Linked DNA regions of Homo sapiens. The protein of the gene in region 7 purifies or fractionates together with the protein of the main gene of each other region. This does not show direct contact. Each region holds a gene or a part of one and is shown on either strand. Other genes may lie near its edges. The genes, in order: RPRD1A, RPAP1, POLR2D, INPPL1, GPN2, USP47 and POLR2M.

Region 1 (3,500 bases), on a different chromosome or scaffold from region 7:
GATTAGATTGCCATTGCTACCCATGGGAGCTGCTACTTAATTATTCCCACCTCAAATTCCCAGCTCTCAAGTTAGCACTACTCCTTTGCAATTTACTCCTTCTCTGCTCGTATAAATACCCTCAGATGATGATAGTTGGTGGCCACTATACCTTTGAAGAGGTTGCCCACTTCTACATGGAAAGGAAAAGATGGTTTTTTTTTTTAAAAGATGAATTTGATAATTAACTTGCCACTATTTCACCTTGTGATGAAACCTCAATTTTAAACATAGTGTTAATTGTTTTATTGTCCACAGAATTAAGGGTAAGTAATGTCATACAATTTTTGTCTTTAGTCTTTTAGTATGGTTTCTTTAACTTCTATTGAGCTTCTGTTGCAGATATTGGACATGGGCGTATCTTCTAACGATGTCGTCACCATTAGTATATTCTTCCTGCTAAAAATAAATATCAAACCCTGAAGCCTGTATTGTCTCATGTTTTTGAAAATTGAAGAGAAGACTGTAACTTTATTCTGCTTTATACTTTCTCACTTATGATGATGGTCATTTGTCACTGTTTACAAAAACAGAATTTATATTTGAAGTGTAACTGTAGAAAATAGATCAGATGCCACTCCCCACAACCCCCTTTTCCCCCAGTGCCTTCCAGCCACATTTCATAGTTGACAGTCATAGATTATGAGGCTGATGATAATAATAATGTTAACATTCATGTGTCAGGTACTATTCTAGGCACTTCACATAAGCAACTCATTTAATCTTACACAGCAGGATGTATTATCCACATTTGATAGATACAGAACTGAGGCACAGGAAGATTAAGTAACTTGCCTAAGGTCACAAAGAGCTAGTGAGTTGTTTGGAACGCAGAGAATCTGCCTCCAGAGCCAGTGCACTTCATCAAAAAGACACATTGCTTCCTGTTTTTACTTAAATCTAAGATTAAAGCAAATGCTAAAGTCCTATTTTTTCCAACTTTTTCTGCTCCCTCTCTTCTCAGAGGTAATCACTGTCTTGAAATAAAGCCTTCTAGGAACTTTTTTTGTTGTTCTTCTGCATAACTGGATTTTATATTATAAAGAAGAAATCACCTCAATTATGTTCAGCTGTTTTTTAACAAGTAAATACTCTTTACAAGTACAGAAATAAACTTGAAAGTTATTCCACAGAACTCTTTGTAAATTATCACTTAGAACTATGTTATTCCTTTGTAGAAGATGTGGAAATGATTTGAGATATTTAGACTTTTTTGTACCAAGTAGGTGGCATCACTTTGAAGTTGAGACTGAGAGGTGAAGATTTATGTTTTCTGAATCAGCTGTGATACTATCAAGTAATTTTCATCTATTGTGTATCTTTGAACATTAACAGTGGTTGACCAGATACTGATGTGTCATTTGTTGCTGCATTTTTGATAATGGAACATAAATTTAAAGTATCAGTTCGGGAATTGGCCATTTCATATTTCTTAAGGAAGCCATTATTAAAGCATGTGTAATGAATGAAAACATGAAGTGGTTTAAAATTTGTGTTTTAAGACAATCATTATTTTTGAAACTTCTGACTATAGTTGGTTACTAAGCAGAAGCAGATAACTGTTGGGCCGGGTGTGGTGGTTCACGCCTGTAATCTCAGCACTTTGGGAAGCTGAGCTGGGTGAATCACTTGAGGTCAGGAGTTCAAGACCAGCCTGGCTGACATGGTGAAACCCCATCTCTACTTAAAAAAAAAAAAAAAAAAAAATTAACCAGGTGTGGTGGTGGGTGCCTGTAGTCCCAGCTACTTGGGAGGCTGAGGCAGCAGGATCACTTGAACCTGGGAGGTGGAGGTTGCAGTGAGCTGAGATCACACCACTGCCCTCCAGACTGGGCGACAGACCGAGACTCCATCACGCGCGTGCGCGTGCACACACACACACGAGATAACTGTTAAAATAGACTATTAATAACTTTAGTTTACATTTATAATATTTAGGGATTGCTATAGGAATCATTTTACCATTATGAAGTTGAAAGTATTGCATAAACTGTTTTTCAGTTAGCTTATTATCTTGGAAGGCATACATGAATAGGAGAATTAAAATGACATTTTGACTTTGACATTGTTTCCTAGTACATACAAAAGTTATGTTTACAACTTTACTGTTGTCTAAGTATTACAATTACACTTTACTGTTGTCTAAGCATTAGGATTACATATAAAATTACATATAAAAAATGTACGTATCTTAGTTAAAAATGCTTCATTGCTAAAAAAGACTAATCATCTGAGCCTTCTGTTAGTCATAGTCTTTGCTGGTGGAGGGTCTTGCCTTGATATTGATGGCTGTTGACTGATTAGGGTGGTGATTGCTGAAGGATGTGGCTATGGCAGTTTATTAACACAGTGATAAAGTTTGCTGCATCAGTTGACTTCTTTCTTGAAAGATTTCTCTGTAGGATGCAGTACATTTGATAGCATTTTGCCTACAGCAGAACTGCTTTCAAAATTAGAAGCAATTTTCTCAAGCCCTGCTACTGCTTTATCAAGTAAATCCTTTGTTGTCATTTCATCTCCACTGGGAGTAGATTCCATCTCAGGAAACCACTTTATTTGCCCATCCATAAGAAGCAACTCCTCACCAACAAGTTTTATGAGATTGGAGCAGTTCAGTCACATCTTCAGGCTCCACTTCTGTGTCTCGTTCTCTTGCTATTTGCAGCAGATCTACAGTTATTTTCACCACTGAAGTCTTGAACCCCACAAAGTCAGCCATGAGAATTGGAGTAAACTTCTTCCAAACTCCTGTTAATGTTGATATTTTATCTCCTCCCATGAATCATGAATGTTTTTAATGCCATCTAGAATTGTGAATCATTTTCTGAAAGTTTTCAGTTACTTTGCCGATATTCATCACAGGAATGACTATGGCAGCTATATAGCCTTACGAAATGTATTTCTTAAATAGTGAGACTTGAATGTCAAAATTGCTCTTTTATCTATAAGTGGCAGAACACGTGTTAGCAGGCATGAACACTAGTCACATTGTACATCTTCATCAGAGCTCTTGGGTGACCAGGTATGTTGTCAATAGTAATTTTTTATTATTGTTATTTTGGAGACAGTCTCTTGTTCTGTCACCCAGGCTGGAGTAGTCATGCAATCACAGCTCACTGTAACCTCGAACTCATGAGTACAAGTTATCTTCCTGCTTCAGCTTCCAAAGTAGCTAGGACTGCAGGTGTGTGCCACCATGCCTGGCTAATTTTTAAATGTTTTGTAAAGAAGAGTTCTTGCTGTGTTGCCCAGGCTAGTCTTGAACTCTTGGGTCAAGCAGTCCTCCCACCTGGGCCTCCCAAAGTGCTGTGACTACAGGTGGGAATCACTACATCTGGCCAATAGTAATATTTTGCAGGTCTCAACAGTTGGCTTAAAATACTCAGTAAACTATGCTGTAAATAGATGTATTGTCATCTATACTTGTTTCTTTTATAGAGCACAGGCAGAGTAAATTTAGC
Region 2 (3,500 bases), about 16 Mb from region 7:
AGCACGTAGCGCAGCCGAGGCAGCAGGCTGGTAGCCAGGAGCCCCTGGGAGTTGGAGAGAGAAACCCACTGACAAATGCAGCTGGACCCTGGGCATTGATGGCCCCTCTTTCCAGCATGTGCTTGTCCCCTGGGCCATGGGATGGGAAAGAAGCTGTCCCTTTACCTTGATGACATCATGTCGGGCCAGGTCAGGTGGAGGCCGGCTTTCTTCTTCAGGGCTTTTCCTTTTTGCTTTTCCTGCTGGGCATTCTTCATCCTCGTCCTCATCCTCCTTGTCCTCCTGGCTGGGCATCAGAGGGAACGTCAAAGCTCCATGGTACCAAGAGAAGGTGCTGTCGAGGAGCTCCTGCCAGAGGAACGGGAGTTGGGGGGCAATGCTGAAGGGGCCAGGAAATGGATCCAGGAGTAGAGAGGATGCTCCCCAATAAAAACCATAAAGGCAAGCCTCCTGGGCTTTAGGGACTTTAGGAGATGAGGGAGACGCCTGCCATCCCATTCTACATCTTGCCCGCAAAGCCTTAGCAATGGGGCCATGCCCAGGAACAGGAATATGGACCCTGGCACCTCCCAGCCCAAGCCCCATTCCTATCCCTGTGGTACCTCATCTCCAGGAGCCACCAGCAGAGCCCGAAGAGCACGGATGGCGGTTGCAATGACCCCATCCACTCTGTCATCCAAGGAGAAGCGCAGTAGGAAGAGGAAACCAGCATCCAAAAGGAGGCTTAAGACACTGCCTGCTAGCCGGTCCCCAAACTCACCAGCCTGGGCCTGAGGGCAGGAGGGTAAAACCTTGCTGAAGATGCTGAAGTTATCTAGAGGCTTTGCCCTAATCCTTCGTTTGCCCCCCTATGATCCTAGGTTGTTAAAAGCACATAGCTGGCTAGTGAGCCAGAGTGAAAAGGGCAGGAGATGGGGAAGTCTGAGGCTGTGGGGTGAAGGGAAGGGTGGGCAGGACCAGGCTGGCAATCCACTCACCCTGCTGATGACCTGGGCTAACACATGCAGTGCCAGTGCTCTCTGCTGGGAAACCTGGCTGCGGGTCAGGTGGAACAGCTCCTGTAGGGAATACCCCGCTCTCTGGGGCAGGGACAAGAAGTCAGAAGCAGCCAGGATACAGCACAGTGCCCCCAAAACACCAAGCAAGGTATCACAGGAAAGACAAAGATAAATAAGTGAAATCTGCCCTGCTTTCCATGGAGCCTCAAGCCGGTAAAGATAAGACTTGCATACAAGTAACCATGCCATGAGGCAGATGCAGAGGAACGTGATAACTGATGTTTAATTTGCGACCGGCGGACAGGAGAGAGAGAGAAGGGAACCTGGAAAATTAAATTGGTCTCAGTGGATGGGTAGAGCTTTGATGGCCTGACATGGAGCAAAAGGCAAAGGCATTTCCTGGAGCGAGTGGAGTCCTGGAGGGCCCTGAGCACAGGAGGTATGTGGGGAGAAGCCAGCAGAGTGGTGTAGCAGGAAGTGAAGGAGGCAGAGCAGCAGGGTCAGCAGGGACAAAAGGTAGAAGGAATATCTTGCCCAGCTGAGACCAGAACCTTATTTTGTGAGCAGAGGGAAGCTGGGAAACTTCTGGAGGCAAGGCATGGCCTGAGCTGGGCCAGAAGAAATCAGCACAGCAGCCCCGAGAGACATGGAATGGCAGGGGGGCGGAGAATGGAGGGCATGGAGAGTGAGCAGACCAAGGAAGCAAGGCCACAGTGCAGGAGGCATCATGAGGAGGTGACAGAAGATCGGCAAATTCTAGCAACTGACCAGAATACGGAGAGAGGATCAAGATTTTGAGCCTAAGAAACTGAATGCCACGCCTGTAATCCCAGCACTTTGGGAGGCCGAGGCAGGCGGATCACAAGCTCAGGAGATCAAGACCATCCTGGCTAACATGGTGAAACCCCGTCTCTACTAAAAATACAAAAATTAGCTGGACGTGGTGGCATGCGCCTGTAATCCCAGCTAGTCAGGAGGCTGAGGCAGGAGAATGGCTTGAACCCAGGAGGTGGAGGCTGCAGTGAGCCAAGATCATACCACTGCACTCCAGCCTGGGCCAGAGCGAGATTCTGTCTCCAAAAAAAGAAACTGAATGCACAGCAAAGGCATGAACTAGAACAGGGCACACAGAAGGTCAAAGGCAGTTGACCAGAGATCCTTTTCCATGGGGTTGTTAAAAGAGCTGCCCCATCCTCTCCAGTCCCATGCCTCACCTCTGCCTCCTCTCCATGGTGGTGCAGACCCAGGTGGGTGGGCAGGTCCACGTCAGGGGCCAGTAGTTCTCCCTGAAGACTGAATCGAGCCTGCATCCTCTAATGGGAAGAGAAAGAGGACTGTGGTCTGGGGGCTCCAGCAACCTTCCCACACCCACTCCCCACCTTTAATCCCAGGCCTTTCAGGACTTAGGTACTGACTCTACTTCTACCAGAAATGGGGCTTATCTGGCCTTGGGGGCCAGGCAGAGTGATGGTAAAGGTGGGTGAGAGCAAAGGAGAGATGCTTCTCAGGCTCTGGGCAATAGAAAGGCCTGAGTTCTGAGGGCAAGAGCAGCAGCTCCTCTCCTGCCCTATCTCACCCACCCCTTGTAGGCCAGGTGGCCCTCCTCACCTCCTGTGTCTGCTGCCGCCGGACAGGGGGCAAGTCCTGGGTCCAGTGGAGCTTCTCCAGCTCGACAGTGTCCATGTGCAGCCATTCTTTCTGAGGGGTCACGGGCAATGCCAGAGCTGGGGAGACAAAGCATGATAGTATTACCCAAACGGCTCAGCTCACTATCCACAGGGGTCCCCACCATCACCCAGCAGCTGCCACATCCACTTCTGTTCCAGGATCTGCCAGCTTCTACCCTCGGTTATGGCTAAATGGCATGGCCCAGGGACTGGAACTCCTGGGGCTGGGGTGAAAGTCTCAAATATGACAGACACACTCCATCCTGGGCTCCAGCCCCTTGCTGACCCCAAGGATTTGTTGGGAGGGGAGAGAGGAGGAGAAGGAGAAGGAAGAAAGAGAAAGAAAGGAGAAAAAGATGAAGAAGGAGGACCACATATGTCAGGAAGGCACCATCTCCACTTTCCAGTACCAGCCCTTAAAGGAGTAGGAGAGTGGGGACAATGAGGAGGAGGCAACTATACTGCTCCTGGGGGGCAGGATACAGAAACAAATCCCACAGCATTTTCCTCCTTCACGCCTACCCCCACCCAACCTGCTCAGCTGGCCTGGAGCTCCTCCGGGGGCATGAGGTTCCTGGCTCTCATAATTCAATTTCTTATTTTGTTAATCACTAATGAAATAATCTAGTTTCTGGGAAATGAGTGCTTCCACTGGCCTCTCTGCTTCTGGTCTGGCATGTTCATAAGATCTTTGTCAGATTCTGCCTCTCTTATTACTCTGGCCCTGCCATCTTTCCCCCAGCACTGTGAGCAGAGAGAGAAAGAACAGTGGGATGGACAGAGCCAGAGCTGGGGCAGCTACAGCAAGGACAGGAAGATAGTCTGCCGGGAGCGG
Region 3 (2,552 bases), on a different chromosome or scaffold from region 7:
TGTTTAGTTCCAAACTGCTCTTCCGCTGATGAAGAGAGGAGAGCCGGGTGTAGGCACAAATACTGATCAGAATCTACCCAGGACCTGCAGTCTCCCTAGTCCCATCTCCCATTCAGGAGTTGCAAACAGGTACTTTTATCTAGTCAAAGATCTTTACAGAAACTTGAGAGCTGTAACCACATATATTTCCTCAATATTTCTCACCGCAATTGTTAGGTTAGACCCTGACAACTGAGCCACACCACTACTGGGACTGACCCTTGACCCAGAACTCTCCCCAAGGAAAACTTCAATATGAGCTGGATATTCAATAACATGCAATACTTGTCAATGTTCCTAAGTGCTATAATGCCCCATTCCTAGCAATGAAATACAGATAAAGCAAATAGCATGTTATCCGTTACATCAAGATGGTGAACACACAGGTATCAATGTACTAGTCTTTCCAGGTTTTCTGTTAAGTATAAAATTTTTTGTAAAAAAATTATCTGACACCAGTGGCATATTTAGTGCTTTTTATTAACAGTATTACTAAGGCAACTCATCGATGCTGAAGTCCCATCCAGTATGCTATTTTTCATGCCTCAGGTCTAATAAATCTTAATAAAACCAGAATGACTAGATGCTATGGTCTGAATGTGCCCCCTCCCACCCAATTGATACATTGAACCCATCACTGATGTAGTATTAAGAGGTGGGGTCTTTGGCAGGTGATTAAGTCATGAGAGAATATCCCTCATGAAGGGGATTAATGCCCTTATAAAAGAGGCTGCGGGCTGGGTGCAGTGACTCATGCCTCTAATCTCAGCATTTGGGAGGCGGAAACAGGTGGACTGCTAGAGGTCAGAAATTCCAGACCAGCCTGGGCAACATGGCGAAACCCCGTCTCTACAAAAAATAAATTAGCCAGGCATGGTAGCTCGTGCCTGTGGTCCCAGCTATCCAAGAGGCTGAGGTGGGATGATCGCTGGAGAGTGGGAGATTGAGGCTGCAGTGAACCTTAATCATGCCACTGCACTCCAGCCTGGGCGACAGAGCAAGATCCTGCTGTATCCAAAAAAAAAAAAAAAAAAAGCCTGGTCCTTCCATCCCTTCTACCATAAGGAGTGTTCATTCCCTATGGAAGATGCAGAAAAAAAGGCACCATCTTGGACCAGAAAGCCGCCCTTGCCAGACACTGAACGTACCAGCACCTGGATCTTGCATTTGCCAGCCTCCAAAACTGTGAGAAATAAATTCCTATTATTTATAGGTTACCCAGTCTAAGGTATTCTGTTACAGCGCAGGAACAAACTAAGACACTAAAACTTTCAGAAAGACTTATCTGGTTAATTTAGCTTTCTGGTGAAGTGAGGGTTTGACAACCTATCTTTTTGTTGTATCAGTATGTTCCCAAATTCTTTCCTGATTTTACACAGTACAATGAGCCTAACAATGTTTCACAAATTGTGCAAGGTCTCCTAATAGCTATTTTTCAATAGCAATATGCTGTCCAGCCCTGTAAACAATTTTTGACTGTCTTGCAGAATAGCTGACCAGGCTTTCAACCTACAACAGCATGAGGTTGCTTTACCAAGTTCCCTAGTATGAGCTGCTTTTTATTATTTTATTTTTTTTCAAGATGGAGTCTCGCTCTTGTTGCCCAGGCTGGAGTGCAATGGCATGATCTTGGCTCACTGCAACCTCCACCTCCCGGGTTCAAGCAATTCTCCTGTCTCAGCTTCCCAAGTAGCTAGGATTACAGGTGCCCGCCACCACACGTGGCCAATTTTTGTATTTTTAGTAGAGACAGGGTTTCACAACGTTGGCCAGGCTGGTCTCGAACTTCTGACCTCTGGTGATCCACCCGCCTCGGCCTCCCAAAGTGCTGGGATTACAGGTGTGAGCCACCGCGCCCAACTGTGAGCTGCTTTTTAAATCTGCTTTTAATCACCTTGATAAATACCACTGATTAGTGCCTAACTATGTGCCAGAGCATTATATACTTCAGTATTCTCAGGTAGCTCACAGAACCCCTGGCACATAGGTGGAAACACCAGTAAAGATGGTAGCACCGTGCTCCTCAGTTGCCATCTAGCACACGCCTGGATCGTCTGGGCTGCCTTCCAAGTCTCTTCTTCCCATTCCACTGCTTTAGTGCCAATCAGCACATGTAAGTGCCTCTCTCAAGAAATAATTCTGCAGTACTCACTTTGGCAGCACATATACCCAAATTGGAACAATACAGAGAAGACAGCATGGCCACTGCCCAAGAATGACATGCAAATTCATCAAGCATTAAAAAACGAAAGTTAACTGTAGATTTGGGTAAGCAATTTCACTTTTTTTTTTTTTTTTTTTTTGAGACAGTTTCGCTCTTGTTGCCTAGGCTGGAGTACAATGGTGCAATCTTGGCTCGCCACCCCCTCTGCCTCCCAGGTTCAAGCAATTCTCCTGCCTCAGCCTCCAGAGTAGCTGAGATTACAGGCATGCGCCACCACGCCCCGCTAATTTTGTATTTTAAGTAGAGACGGGGTTTCTCCATGTTGGTCAGGATGGTCTCAAACTCCCAA
Region 4 (2,440 bases), on a different chromosome or scaffold from region 7:
GGGCATGGGCATGAGTGAGGATAAAGGCGTTTGCTTTATTTTGGGAGTGTGGAACCTTGTTGCAGTTTGTTCATTCATTCAGGAGATGCTTCTTGAGCTTTTGCTAGATGTCAGGTCCTGTGTTAGCTATTGAGAAAATTAATTAGTTACAGTGATGCTAGGTGCTGTAAAAGGCCTGTATAGGGCTGTGTCTTCTGCATTAAGGATTTGGCTCTTCTCTGAAGAGTTGAGTGTGAGTGAGCACAGATGACCTGAGGGTGGGGATTGAGTGGTGTCAGGGGGCAGCGCGTAGGAGGGGCAGGAGGAAGTGGCGGGGCTTTGTTCCTCACTGGGCCTCCCTGCTTCCCAGCTCAAACCAATTCTGGCTGATATCGAGTACCTGCAGGACCAGCACCTCCTGCTCACAGTCAAGTCCATGGATGGCTATGAATCCTATGGTGAGGGGTGAGGGGTGCTGAGGGGAACAGGAAGCCAGACAGGGCCCTAGATTAGCTTGGTAATTTGCTGGTTTGTCCCATCTGCTCCTCAGGGGAGTGTGTGGTTGCACTCAAATCCATGATCGGCAGCACGGCCCAACAGTTCCTGACCTTCCTATCCCACCGTGGCGAGGAGACAGGCAATATCAGAGGCTCCATGAAGGTGCGGGTGCCCACGGAGCGCCTGGGCACCCGTGAGCGGCTCTACGGTGGGGACTCCACTGGGACATGAGATAGGGTGGTGTGAACAGATCAAGGAGGGCAGGGTGCGGGGGGCATGTTGGAATCTCTGGGATACCTGGAGGTTCTGCAGCCACAGCTGGGAATAGTCCTGCCCCAAGGCATAGCTGGGAAAGGGCTGGCAGGCCCACTGGGTGTCTGTGGGATCCAGGAGCCCAGGTCTCCTCTGAGTCTCCCTTCCTGCCCCCTCAGAGTGGATCAGCATTGATAAGGATGAGGCAGGAGCAAAGAGCAAAGCCCCCTCTGTGTCCCGAGGGAGCCAGGAGCCCAGGTGAGCTAGGGCTGTGTTGAATGTCATATGAAAGGGTACCTGGGGGCATCTGGTCAACCCCACTTCATCTCTCTCCTGTGCATCCCTGGCAGGTCAGGGAGCCGCAAGCCAGCCTTCACAGAGGCCTCCTGCCCGCTCTCCAGGTTATTTGAAGAACCAGAGAAACCGCCACCAACGGGGAGGCCCCCAGCCCCACCCCGAGCAGCTCCCCGGGAGGAGCCCTTGACCCCCAGGTGAGAGGAGGAACCTGTCACCGCCCCCCCTTCCCCCACCCACCTCTATCCATCACTATCCCCTGCAGGGTCTCAGGGTTGGCCTGGAGATCATCAGCTGCTTAGGTGCCCTGCCACTCTGTGGTTGGAGCTGCCATGGCCTTATGCCTGTGGCCAGCCAGGCCACCCTTAGCTGTGGCTCTGAGTCAAAGGGAGCAGTCAGCCTTTCCTCTCAATTCTGCCTTTAAAAATGGAATGCGAAATTGTTTCTAAGACAGCTCCCTCCATGTAAACAGACCTAGCTTGAGCCTTCTATTTGGAGGAGGCACATGGCTCGGCCTGGGATTTCCCAGGGTACCTTCTTTGGAACTCTGTCCTGCAAGAGGCCCCAGTTGAAATGGGTTTGTGGTCAAATGAGTTTGGGAAATGCTTTTTCTAGATTCTTTTCTTAGACATTCCCAGTGCATGTTAGTATTAGCAAAAGCTCTGAGCATGTGGACAGGAAGGAAACCTCTTTTCAGCTCTGTTTAATATAGTTTCCCAAACTTAATGGGCCAGGAAACTTATTTTCCATGTAGTAACTATTAACGTTCTGGGGAATTAGTGCTCTGTGTCACACTTTGGGAAAGTGAGGCTTGCTTTCTAATTATATCCGATTGTTGCTTAAACTTACATAAACTCCTAGGTACAGTTTGGTGCTTTTTCACTCATCTTCAGCTGTTGTCAGTCACCCCGGTTTTATCCCTAGGCTTGAATAAGACCCACCTGAATCTCTGAGAAAGATTCTGCAGCGGATTGACTGTGGGTGCCTCAAGAGGCTTTCCAAACCTGGCCTCTCATTGGAGGCTTCTTGCCCTGTCTTCTGGCACCTCTATTCTGACCCATTTAGCTTGGGTTTCACAGCTACAGATAAAGTCATGAAAGATCTAAGTATCTTAGCAAGTGAGGCAAGGGATTGTAGGGTTATCCATTCAAAGGGTTATCCTCCCTCTGACCTTTAGAGATGAAGAAACTAAGGGCAGGTGATGTGCTCAAGGTCATGAGAAAGTCTAGGACCAGGGGACTTTCTGACTCCCGTCTAGTTCTCCTTCCACTGCTTCCACTGCCTTAGACCTGGGTTCCTGGATCCTGGCTTAGTCGTTCTGCTTCCACACCCAGGTTGAAGCCAGAGGGAGCTCCTGAACCAGAAGGGGTGGCGGCCCCCCCACCCAAGAACAGCTTCAATAACCCTGCCTACTACG
Region 5 (3,500 bases), on a different chromosome or scaffold from region 7:
TTAGTGAGAAATGATTTATAAAACTGAATCAGGGACCTCAGCATCATCTAGTCCTTATTTTACATTAAGAAATAACTGGCTCAGAAAAGGAAAGTGATTTACCCAGGAGGCTACCCTGCTAGAATGTAGCATTTATTCAGTTTAACCATTTACAGAGTCTTTGCAGTGTATGTGCCAGGTCCTGAGGGTATGACCTGACTATGAGCTCTGTGAGGTGAGGACGACCATGCACAGTTCTTGGTACATACTTGTTATCATTATTTGCAACTTTTTTTTTTTTTTTTTTTTTTGAGACAGAGTTTCGCTCTTGTTGCCCAAGCTGGAGTGCAATGGTGTAATCTCGGCTCACTGCATCCTCCGCCTCCTGGATTCAAGCGATTCTCCTGCCTCAGCCTCCCGTGTAGCTGGGATTACAGGCATGTGCCACCACGTCCGGCTAATTTTGTATTTTTTTTTCTTTTTTTTTGAGACGGAGTCTTGCTGTGTCGCCCAGGCTGGAGTGCAGTGGCGCGATCTCGGCTCACTGCAAGCTCCCCCTCCTGGGTTCACGCCATTCTCCTGCCTCAGCCTCCTGAGTAGCTGGGACTACAGGCACCCGCCACCACGCCCAGCTAATTTTTTGTATTTTTAGTAGAAACAGGGTTTCATCGTGTTAGCCAGGATGGTCTCGATCTCCTGACCTTGTGATCCGTCCATCTCCCAAAGTGCTGGGATTACAGGCTTGAGCCACCGCACCTGGCCTAATTTTGTATTTTTAGGAGAAATGGAGTTTCACCATGTTGGCTGGTCTTGAACTCCTGACCTCAGGTAATCACCCACCTCGGCTTCCCAAAGTGCTGGGATTACAGGCATGAGCCACCGTGCCCAGCCTGTTTGCAGTTATTGATCAAGCACTTCTCTGTACCAGACACTGGGGTTTATAGCATTTAATCTTCATAACAGTCCTATGAAGTAGATACCTGCCTATATAGCTAGTAAATAGCAGAGCCAGCAGGTAAAACCAAATGCTTTTTTTCTTAGTAACTTCATTTTACTGTGTCAAGAAATATTTGAGTGCATGAGTGCACAAAGGAAAAAAGGAAAAAGGAACCTCGTCCTCAGGTCTTTAGCCTGATACTGGTTGCTCCTGAACACTGGTTTCTCTCTTTAGCCTTCAACCTGGACTACTACACAGAGGTTCTGGACCTCTCCTACCTGCTTGACCACCTGGCTTCTGACCCTTTCTTCCGCCACTACCGCCAGCTCAATGAGAAGCTAGTGCAGCTCATCGAAGACTATAGCCTTGTCTCCTTTATCCCTCTCAACATCCAGGTACTAGGGGCTAAGACGGGACTCTTGACAGTGCATGGGATTCACCAAGCCAAAAGCACAGGAAGCTTTGAGGGCTTAAAGAATGGTCTTTGCCGGCTGGGCGCGGTTGCTCAAGCCTCTAATCCTAGCACTTTGGGAGGCCGAGGTGGGCAGATCATGAGGTCAGGAGATCGAGACCATCCTGGCTAACCCAGTGAAACCCCGTCTCTACTAAAAATACAAAAAATTAGCTGGGCGTGGTAGCAGGTGCCTGTAGTCCCAGCTACTCAGGAGGCTGAGGCAGGAGAATGGCGTGAACCCGTGAGGCAGAGCTTGCAGTGAGCCGAGACCACGCCATTGCTCTCCAGCCTGGGCGACAGAGTGAGACTCCATCTCAAAAAAAAAAAAAAAAAAAGAGTGGTCTTTGCCCTGGGTTGAGTATCACTGAGAGTAACCTTAGTTTCAGGACCAGGGGCTGCTGTAGGGGCAGAATTCCAGTAAAGAGAGTGGACCAAACTTTTGCCCTGTCTATTTTGTGTTGCTGGATCCTCTCTTCACATGTTCTGTCCTCTGTGAAAATGGGTGAGTTCAGAAAGTCATCAGCAAGAAAGTTCACCAGGACCAGGGACAAGTCTCTTAAGCCCTTTCAACTGGGCAACTGTCTGTTGACTTTGCAAAGTGGTACCCAACCCCTGTGCCTCTCACCTTTACCCTGCAGAGATAACCTGGGAGACGCAGGTGCATGTTAGATTCCTTTCTGCAGTGGGTGGACTTGAGCTAACTTGTCTCCTCCCTTCTAATGCCACACTCTTCTGATATGAGGAGATGAACTCTATAATATCAATCACAACAATTACCTCTTATTTATGGCTTTCTGTGCTGGGCACTGTGCTAAGGACTACACATACATAATTTTGCTTTGTCCTTCCCACCATGTGATATATGGACTGTTCTTATCACTGTATGTGGATGAGGAAACAGTTATAGTTTTTTTTTGTTTTGTTTTGTTTTTTGTGACGGAGTCTCACTCTGTCACCCAGGCTGGAGTGCAGTGCGTTATCTTGGCTCACTGCAACCTCTGCCTCCTGGGTTCAACCGATTCTCCTGCCTCAGCTTCCCAAGTAACTGGGATTACAGGCATCCATCACCATGCCCAACTAATTTTTGTATTTTCAGTAGAGACAGGGTTTCACCATGTTGGCCAGGCTGCTCTTGAACTCCTGACCTTAAGTGATCTACCTGCCTTGGCCTCCCAAAGTGCTGGGCTTTACAGGTGTGAACCACCGTGCCTGGCCCAGTTATAGATTTAAAACATGCATATTCATTGGATGTCTACTTAAGAGAAGTACTGTGCCAGGCACTGGGAATACTGCGACAGATGACCTGGCCCTAAGGGGTGTTTAGTTGAGTAGGGGAGGCAGGTGAGTTAATAGGCGTTTATTACATGGCAGGGATACCATGTACAATAGGTGTAAACCCAGGGGACTGTGGATATGCATAGGGGAGCTTATCTGTTCTAATCTGAGTGAGTTGGTGGTCAGGAAACATGAGATTTATCCAGCCTTTGGGGACATGTAGAACTACTCCAGGCCAAGAAAGCTACAGGTACAGAGGCAAGATGGAGGAAGGTGTATTTAGAGATTGCAAGCAGTTTTACATACTTCTGTTTCACTCACAGAACTGTTTCTCTCCTCCCTGCTCAGGACAAGGAGAGCATCCAGCGAGTCCTGCAGGCTGTGGATAAAGCCAATGGATACTGTTTCAGAGCCCAAGAGCAGCGAAGCTTGGAAGCCATGATGTCTGCCGCAATGGGAGCCGACTTCCATTTCTCTTCGTATCCTTGCCAGCTTCCTGGCCATAGCAGAGAGGGTGAGACATGGGACTCAAGAATGGCCACAGGAGGTGCAGTCATCAACCTTGTGGATGACCAATTTCTTTTTTTTTTTTTTTTTTTGAGATGGAGTCTTGCTCTGTCGCCCAGGCTGGAGTGCAGTGGCACGATCTCAGCTCACTGCAAGCTCTGCCTCCCGGGTTCACGCCACTCTCCTGCCCCAGCCTCCTGAGTAGCTGGGACTACAGCCACCCACCACCACGCCCAGCTAATTTTTTGTATTTTTAGTAGAGACGGGGTTTCACTGTGTTGGCCAGGATGGTCTTGATCTCCTGACCTTGTGATCCACCCAATTTCTTTTTTCTTTTTTTTTTTTGAA
Region 6 (2,708 bases), on a different chromosome or scaffold from region 7:
GAGTGCAGCCATCAGTAGGTCAAGCTAGGAGGGCAAAAGAGAGTTGAGAGGAATGCTCTGCCCCTTCCCCATCACAGCACTGCCCCTTTCCACCTCCTCACCAGCTCACCTGTACAAGAGAATTGATCTCAACTGAGTGTCAGCTCACCAGGTCAGAAATTGTTATTGGACCCTAAAACCTTGCCTCACAGGTGGGCACCAAGCTCCCCTTCCCTCTGCTTTCCATGTTTCCCACCTGCCCTCTCCCCACCTGTTTTCAGCCTCTTTTATAATGCTTAAGTAACCTGCTTGAAGAGTATAATTTATGGAGATAAAAATACTCAATGCTTACATTTTTTTCATAACTGTGCCAATTGTTTTGTCAAATGCAGTTACCCACTGGGCAGTGGGCTTATCAAGTGCTCAGTGCAATCCTGTGACTTTTAAGTCATTTTGCATTATTAAGACAATCTTATCTTAAAGTTCAGTGGTTTCATTCAAAGCTCCCCTGAACCTCCATAGTGCCTCCAAGATGTGCTGTCCCTGCCAACTCCTGCACCAGCTTGACTGGTGGTGGAAGAGGCCAGGAAGAGCGGGGGGAAGACATGTGCTAACCACTTCTTAGCAATGAGGCTGGTAAGGTTACTGTCCCCTTGTGCCTGGTCACTAGTAACTTTTTTGTAGACATGAAGGTAGATGCCCTGCAGGTCCTATCAGCAAAGGACCCAACTCCTAACAGCATTGGTGCTCCCTCATGAAATTTGACAGTGTCTTGCCAGCCTCCTGCTGGCAGACACTTCTCTGCAGTGAATACCACTATCCCATGCTGCACTAGTCCCTACCAAGTCTTCAACCCTCAATTTGATCTTCCATGAGTGTCTCAAAAAGTTCCCCTCAGAAGTTTCAGCCAAGGGAATAAAATCTAACCTCTCCTCCCTCAACGGAGTGTCAGGGAGGGGAAGAATCTGTTTTCCAAACACCACAATCTCCCAAAAGGGGATTTCACCCTCCCTTGGTCATCTTTATACAGGGCAATTGTGCTGCTGCTGCTGAGGTGGCCACTTTCAGCAAGCCCTGTGTGCAGGGGCCTAGCTGCATTTAGAAACCAAGCATAGCTATCAAAAAGTAATCTCCAAATAGTTGAATTGCATTTCTTGAGTATCTGGAGAGGATGTGCAGACCACAGGAATACCTAATGCCTTTTTTCTCTTCCTGTCTTTGTCCCTCACACTACAGCAGGCCCCTCCCTTCCCTCTTCAACCTCATCCTCCCTCCCCACAGGCCCAGAGAACCAGTTGGGCTTTGTTCTCCTGCAGGCTATGGTTCATCATGCAAATAGCTCCTGTGTCAGAAATGCTTTTTGGCTTCAAATAACAGAAAAGCTAACACCAGCTTTATCAATAATAATATCGGTGGTTTACTTAAGGTGTCCAGAGATGGTGGAGAACAGGATTGGTTTCCTCCTCAATGTCAAGGACTCAAAGACTCTTTCTGTGGTAGGGCCACATCCTAAACCCTGTATCCTGTGATTATTTACCTGACAGGGCAAAAGAGATTTTGCAGATGCAATTAAGGTTAAGGACCTTGACGTGGGAAGATTGTGATTATTTACCTGACAGGGCAAAAGAGATTTTGCAGATGCAATTAAGGTTAAGGACCTTGACGTGGGAAGATTATTCTGGATTATCTAGGTGGGCGCAATTTGATCACATGGGTCCCCAGAAGTGGAGAACCTTTCCCACCTGTAGAAAGCCAGAGAGCTGGCACCTGAGAAGGACAGAACTGTCATTGCAGGATTTGAAGATGAAGGGGCCCATGAGCCAAGGAATGCCAGTGACCTATAGAGGCTAAAAAACAGCAAGGAAATGGACTCTCCCCAGAGCCTCCAGAGGAATGCAGCCCTGTTGATCACATGATCACCAGATGGCTGCCCCAGAGCCAAATGTCGCTTCCTGAGCACCATACTCAAAGGCAGGGGAAGTGGATGGAGGGCAGGAGCTCCATTCTTGTTTGCCACTCTCCTTTTGTCAATTGGGAAAAAATTCCAGAAACTCTGGGAGCCCTCCCCTTACATTTCCTGGGTCATGGGGCCAGCCCTAGCTGCTGGAGGGACTGAGAACAGCTGTTGAGCAGTTTACCTGACGGCATCTGCCATGGCTTGGCAGGAACTCTGGCTTTGGGAGAGAGCAGCAGCAAGGTATTCAAGCACCACCTCCACCCAGCCCCTCCCACATTTCACTCAGGACTGAGTAAAGGAGACACTCAGATGCTACTCAGATGCTGGCTTCAGCTAAGTATTTTGCAAAGCCTCTCGTGTTCTTACAAGTTTGTGGCTATCATGACAAAATGGAGCAGCCTACTATATCTACATATACAACTATGGGGGACCTAGTTTTATCTCATTTACCACAATGTTTTCAATCATTTTTTGGATGACATAATTTTTAGCCTCTTCTCTAAATGCTTCCTCAAGCTTTCCTTGCCTTCCAGCCACTGCAAATGACTTGCAGTTTCCCCTACATGGCACCTGACCCTTGTGCCTCCCTCCCTCTGCCCATGGCCCAGAAAGCCCTTTCCTGTGCCCTCTGGCTTCCTGATAAACTCCTATCATCTTCAAGAGCCAGTTCCCATGCCAGCTCTCCCCAAGTGCTCCACTGAGGCTTCCGTAACACCTCTGTTCCCACATCGGGTTGACTGTCTTTGTTTTGTCATTGCTTGCTCTGGCTGTG
Region 7 (3,500 bases):
TGTTGTTTTTTTTTTTGAGACAGGGTCTCACTCTGTCACCCAGGCTATACAGAGTGCAGTGGTGTGACTGCGGCTCACTGCAGCCTCGACCTCCTGAGCTCAAGCAATCCTCCTACCTCAGCCCCACAGGTAGCTGGAACCACAGTTGCATGCCCCAATGCCCGGCTAATTTTTTGGTAAAGATGGAGTCTAGCTATGTTGCCCACGCTGGTCTCGAACTCCTGAACAGTCTGGTGTTATACTAGTTGGTGCACTAGTACCTGACTAAAATCTAGCTAATCAATACCTAGGAAGTGAGACAGGATACTGTTCTCCTGGAGGCTAAAATTATTACTAAATACTTCTAAACTTTTCTGTTCCCCTATGGTCCTTCACACTTATTTTCTCCCATCCCATTATTCTGTATACAAACTCTCAACATACATGTTTGAAGTTCAATGCAAAACACATGGAAACAAAGTGCTATGCAAAATTGATTAAGCTGCCAAAAGCAGGAGATATTTCTCTCTTCACATGGGCCTGCAGATTATGCTCTAAAGCAGTGTCTCACTGTCTGCTGGCTACACAACATTATCCTCCCACTCCTTCTATGCCCTCCCCTGTACTGCAGAAGATGGAAGCCTGGGAACTACATTCTCCTCATTCTCTAACAAGGGGTCTGGGTTTGAGTCCGCCACTGAGAAGCTGTCACATGAGTTTTACAAGGTGAAAGGGAGAGATGCGATGCTACTACTATCCTAACAGGAACAGGCAGGTAAATGAGCTTTAAGACATGAAATTCTACAAGTCTCCCCACATCTCCAGGCAAATCACCACTTTAATGTTGAAGGTAGCTGTGATCATCTCTAGCTACTTCCTGCAGTTCTAGCAACTTTGTGACTCTCTGAAAACTAGTGGCATAGATCTGAGCTCATGGAAGCACCTAATCCCCTCTATTCCATTCCTTCCTCCTTGAACCTGGAGTAAATTCTAGCTTATGTAAGCAGCACCCAACAAACAGACAAGAAAAAAAATACTCTAAATACCTCATAATTCTGTTTCTGCTGTTTCTGAAGTGCCAAGGATTCTTCTATGGAGAGCAGCTGCGTGGGCATATGGTGAAGTGGTAGAAGCCGAGCTGCTGTGATGTCATCAAGATGCTGCTTATCCCTGCGCCGCCGCTCTTCTGAGGAAATAGGAGACCCACTCTTCTGGCAATGACTAGATGAATCATTTTGTCGAAAAGGTAACCTGATGAAAGGAAAACTTGTGTTATACAATCAGATTATTTTATTTGTAGACACATTTAAAACATTCACACAAATGGCCTTTACCTTAGCAATTAATTCTCCTCCAAAGGTAACAGTAAGTAATTTACCAGTATTCATTGCTCTAACAAATAGGGGTGTGTTTGTGTGCATACAGGCTCTTTGCCTTTTCCTTCCTTATTCAAACCTTGTATTTCATCTGGAGTTTTTTTTTTTTTTTTCATTTATTCAAAGAACATTTGCAAAAGGGCTTATTGCCCAGTAGAAAGAAATACACATGTAAAGTTTCAGTGCAATACAATACCAGAGATACTGTGATAGATATCTCAACAAGATACATTGGAACATAAGGAAATGGCCAGTTCTAGTGGGAGACAGGGAGGCTAAGAAAAGTTTCAAAAAAGCTTTGAACAGTCTTGGAATAATAACTGCTTACCCATGTAAATAAGGAGAGAAGTGCATCCCAGCAAGGGGAGTGAGAGAAAGTACAGAAGGTAGACAGACTCAGCTTTTCTGGCTACACAGAAAAGACAGCGAGAAAGAGGGCTGGGAAGTAGCCTAGGCCCAGACTGCAATGAAGAGTTCTCCGTAACAAGTTCGGATTTCCATCTTACAAATTTCACTCTGGCAGCAGTGGAGATAGACTGGTAGTTAAGACTAGAGGTAGAAGGGGCCACAATTACAGCCCGAGAGAGATGAGAGTCTTCACTTCGACAGAAGATGAAGAACAATTATAGAGATGAAGATCAAAGAAATAAGTAGGTCTTCATGGCTAGCAGATATGGAGATGAGAAAAATCGAAGATACCTTAGGGGAAGAAAACCGAGAAGGTGGTGGCACTATTAGGGAATATGGAAATCACCTTGGAAAGAAACTGCAGTTCCACTTTGTACATCATTAAGCTGAGGTACCTGGGAACACCCAAGTGATCAAGTTTCATGGTTAATTGGCTATGCAAACCTAAAGTTCTGGGAAGATCTGGGATAGAGGTGCACAGGGGTCAGCCTCCAGCATCCAGGTGATACATGAAGCCAGAAGAGTATGCAGAAGGAAGAGCAGAAAGGACCCAAAGGACACTACCTGACCCCACCTTCCAACCTCCAAGCCACCTCTCACACGGAACCCTCTCAATCCCTACCTGTCTATGGCCTAAGGACTCCTCAAAGCCCTGCCTTTCCTGTTCTCCTCTAACTTATACAGGAGGCTCCCTGTCTCTTAAACTTCCTGAATTCTTGGTAGCCCTCTTCACTATTCCCTTACCTCTCTCCCACTCCCAGCTAAATGACCATAATACAGAACTGGGATTAATGTATTCTTTGTTTTATTTATTGACTAGATGATGGTTCTAGTTTTCTAAAATGTCATCCTGGAAGTGAAGAAAGATACCCCACTGTACACAAGAGAGTACTTGATCACGTTAATGTAGTATAATCCTGATTTTCTATACAGCAGAAATAAAATGTTTTGAGGTTAAAATGAATGCTGGGGTAGAATTAAAGTCTAACAAAAAAGAAGCATGTTTTAGATACTTTTCACTAGAGGTTTTCTGTTTTTCAAAGAAAGGTAGTAGTGATTTAACTTTGATGTTACATACTTGTAAATACAATATAGGAAGAAGGTACCAGTTACCTGAGTTGAATGTTACATTTGCTGCAAGTAAATAGCAATTATTTTCAAAAAGATTTTACTTTTCCTGAAATTTCAGAAACAAATTTATGGCAAGGAACTGATAAGCAGAGTTTTTGCCTATCCTGCCTGAATCTATTTTCACAGTTTTTCAAACCTCTTCTCAGCTTCCTTCCCCCTGAAACTGTTATTATTATGTAGCTTAACTCTTTTCCAAGTGTGTAAACCTTGGGTCCTCATGTAGCTCTTAAACTCCTTGAAGAACATGGTATTGTATTACATTACACATGTATACATTACAGCCATGTTTTTAAACTTGAGATTTAACATCAAAAAAGGCAAAGGAGTTTTAAGAATCTTGACTTAATTGTGTCCCCACAACACCTGCTGCTTGCTTACATACAGTGAGCATGCAAATAATTTCTGCTGGAAAGCCCATCAGCTCCTGCAATTGCTTTACCCTTAGTTCACAGACTAATCAAAGAGAGTACACTTTGATAGTACACTAATCAAAGCTGTACACTAAAAAATGGTTCTGAAAAAAAGAAGTCATAATAAATTCTCTCCAACTCTGTGTTTATTATGAAATACTGGCTAAGCATCCTAAAATTTAACACTCCCCCATGT

Evidence for each region.
Region 1: the proteins of POLR2M (region 7) and RPRD1A purify together in Homo sapiens (affinity purification with mass spectrometry; 4 studies listed by BioGRID and IntAct, with this or other methods). This does not show direct contact.
Region 2: the proteins of POLR2M (region 7) and RPAP1 purify together in Homo sapiens (affinity purification with mass spectrometry; 5 studies listed by BioGRID and IntAct, with this or other methods). This does not show direct contact.
Region 3: the proteins of POLR2M (region 7) and POLR2D purify together in Homo sapiens (affinity purification with mass spectrometry; 5 studies listed by BioGRID and IntAct, with this or other methods). This does not show direct contact.
Region 4: the proteins of POLR2M (region 7) and INPPL1 purify together in Homo sapiens (affinity purification with mass spectrometry; 3 studies listed by BioGRID and IntAct, with this or other methods). This does not show direct contact.
Region 5: the proteins of POLR2M (region 7) and GPN2 purify together in Homo sapiens (affinity purification with mass spectrometry; 4 studies listed by BioGRID and IntAct, with this or other methods). This does not show direct contact.
Region 6: the proteins of POLR2M (region 7) and USP47 purify together in Homo sapiens (affinity purification with mass spectrometry; 4 studies listed by BioGRID and IntAct, with this or other methods). This does not show direct contact.

The regions. Positions count from the first base shown.
Region 1 is NC_000018.10:36,022,560-36,026,059, reverse strand, and holds part of RPRD1A (regulation of nuclear pre-mRNA domain-containing protein 1A), read left to right. Parts: intron 1-381; coding exon of another isoform or gene 382-462; exon of another isoform or gene 463-1,174; intron 1,175-3,500. UniProt on the Homo sapiens protein: Interacts with phosphorylated C-terminal heptapeptide repeat domain (CTD) of the largest RNA polymerase II subunit POLR2A, and participates in dephosphorylation of the CTD by RPAP2.
Region 2 is NC_000015.10:41,527,258-41,530,757, forward strand, and holds part of RPAP1 (RNA polymerase II-associated protein 1), read right to left. Parts: intron 2,723-3,500; coding exon 2,607-2,722; intron 2,312-2,606; coding exon 2,213-2,311; intron 1,080-2,212; coding exon 978-1,079; intron 771-977; coding exon 603-770; intron 349-602; coding exon 166-348; intron 45-165; coding exon 1-44. UniProt on the Homo sapiens protein: Forms an interface between the RNA polymerase II enzyme and chaperone/scaffolding protein, suggesting that it is required to connect RNA polymerase II to regulators of protein complex formation.
Region 3 is NC_000002.12:127,843,053-127,845,604, forward strand, and holds the end of POLR2D (DNA-directed RNA polymerase II subunit RPB4), read right to left. Parts: 3' UTR 501-2,552; downstream 1-500. UniProt on the Homo sapiens protein: Core component of RNA polymerase II (Pol II), a DNA-dependent RNA polymerase which synthesizes mRNA precursors and many functional non-coding RNAs using the four ribonucleoside triphosphates as substrates.
Region 4 is NC_000011.10:72,234,767-72,237,206, forward strand, and holds part of INPPL1 (phosphatidylinositol 3,4,5-trisphosphate 5-phosphatase 2), read left to right. Parts: intron 1-349; coding exon 350-437; intron 438-529; coding exon 530-685; intron 686-908; coding exon 909-987; intron 988-1,079; coding exon 1,080-1,220; intron 1,221-2,357; coding exon 2,358-2,440. UniProt on the Homo sapiens protein: Phosphatidylinositol (PtdIns) phosphatase that specifically hydrolyzes the 5-phosphate of phosphatidylinositol-3,4,5-trisphosphate (PtdIns(3,4,5)P3) to produce PtdIns(3,4)P2, thereby negatively regulating the PI3K (phosphoinositide 3-kinase) pathways.
Region 5 is NC_000001.11:26,883,784-26,887,283, reverse strand, and holds part of GPN2 (GPN-loop GTPase 2), read left to right. Parts: intron 1-1,150; coding exon 1,151-1,311; intron 1,312-2,993; coding exon 2,994-3,124; intron 3,125-3,500. UniProt on the Homo sapiens protein: Small GTPase required for proper localization of RNA polymerase II and III (RNAPII and RNAPIII). May act at an RNAP assembly step prior to nuclear import.
Region 6 is NC_000011.10:11,959,680-11,962,387, forward strand, and holds the end of USP47 (ubiquitin carboxyl-terminal hydrolase 47), read left to right. Parts: 3' UTR 1-2,208; downstream 2,209-2,708. UniProt on the Homo sapiens protein: Ubiquitin-specific protease that specifically deubiquitinates monoubiquitinated DNA polymerase beta (POLB), stabilizing POLB thereby playing a role in base-excision repair (BER). Acts as a regulator of cell growth and genome integrity.
Region 7 is NC_000015.10:57,709,714-57,713,213, reverse strand, and holds part of POLR2M (protein GRINL1A), read right to left. Parts: intron 1,231-3,500; coding exon 1,026-1,230; intron 1-1,025. Other genes in the region: GCOM1 (GRINL1A combined protein), read right to left, coding at 1,026-1,230.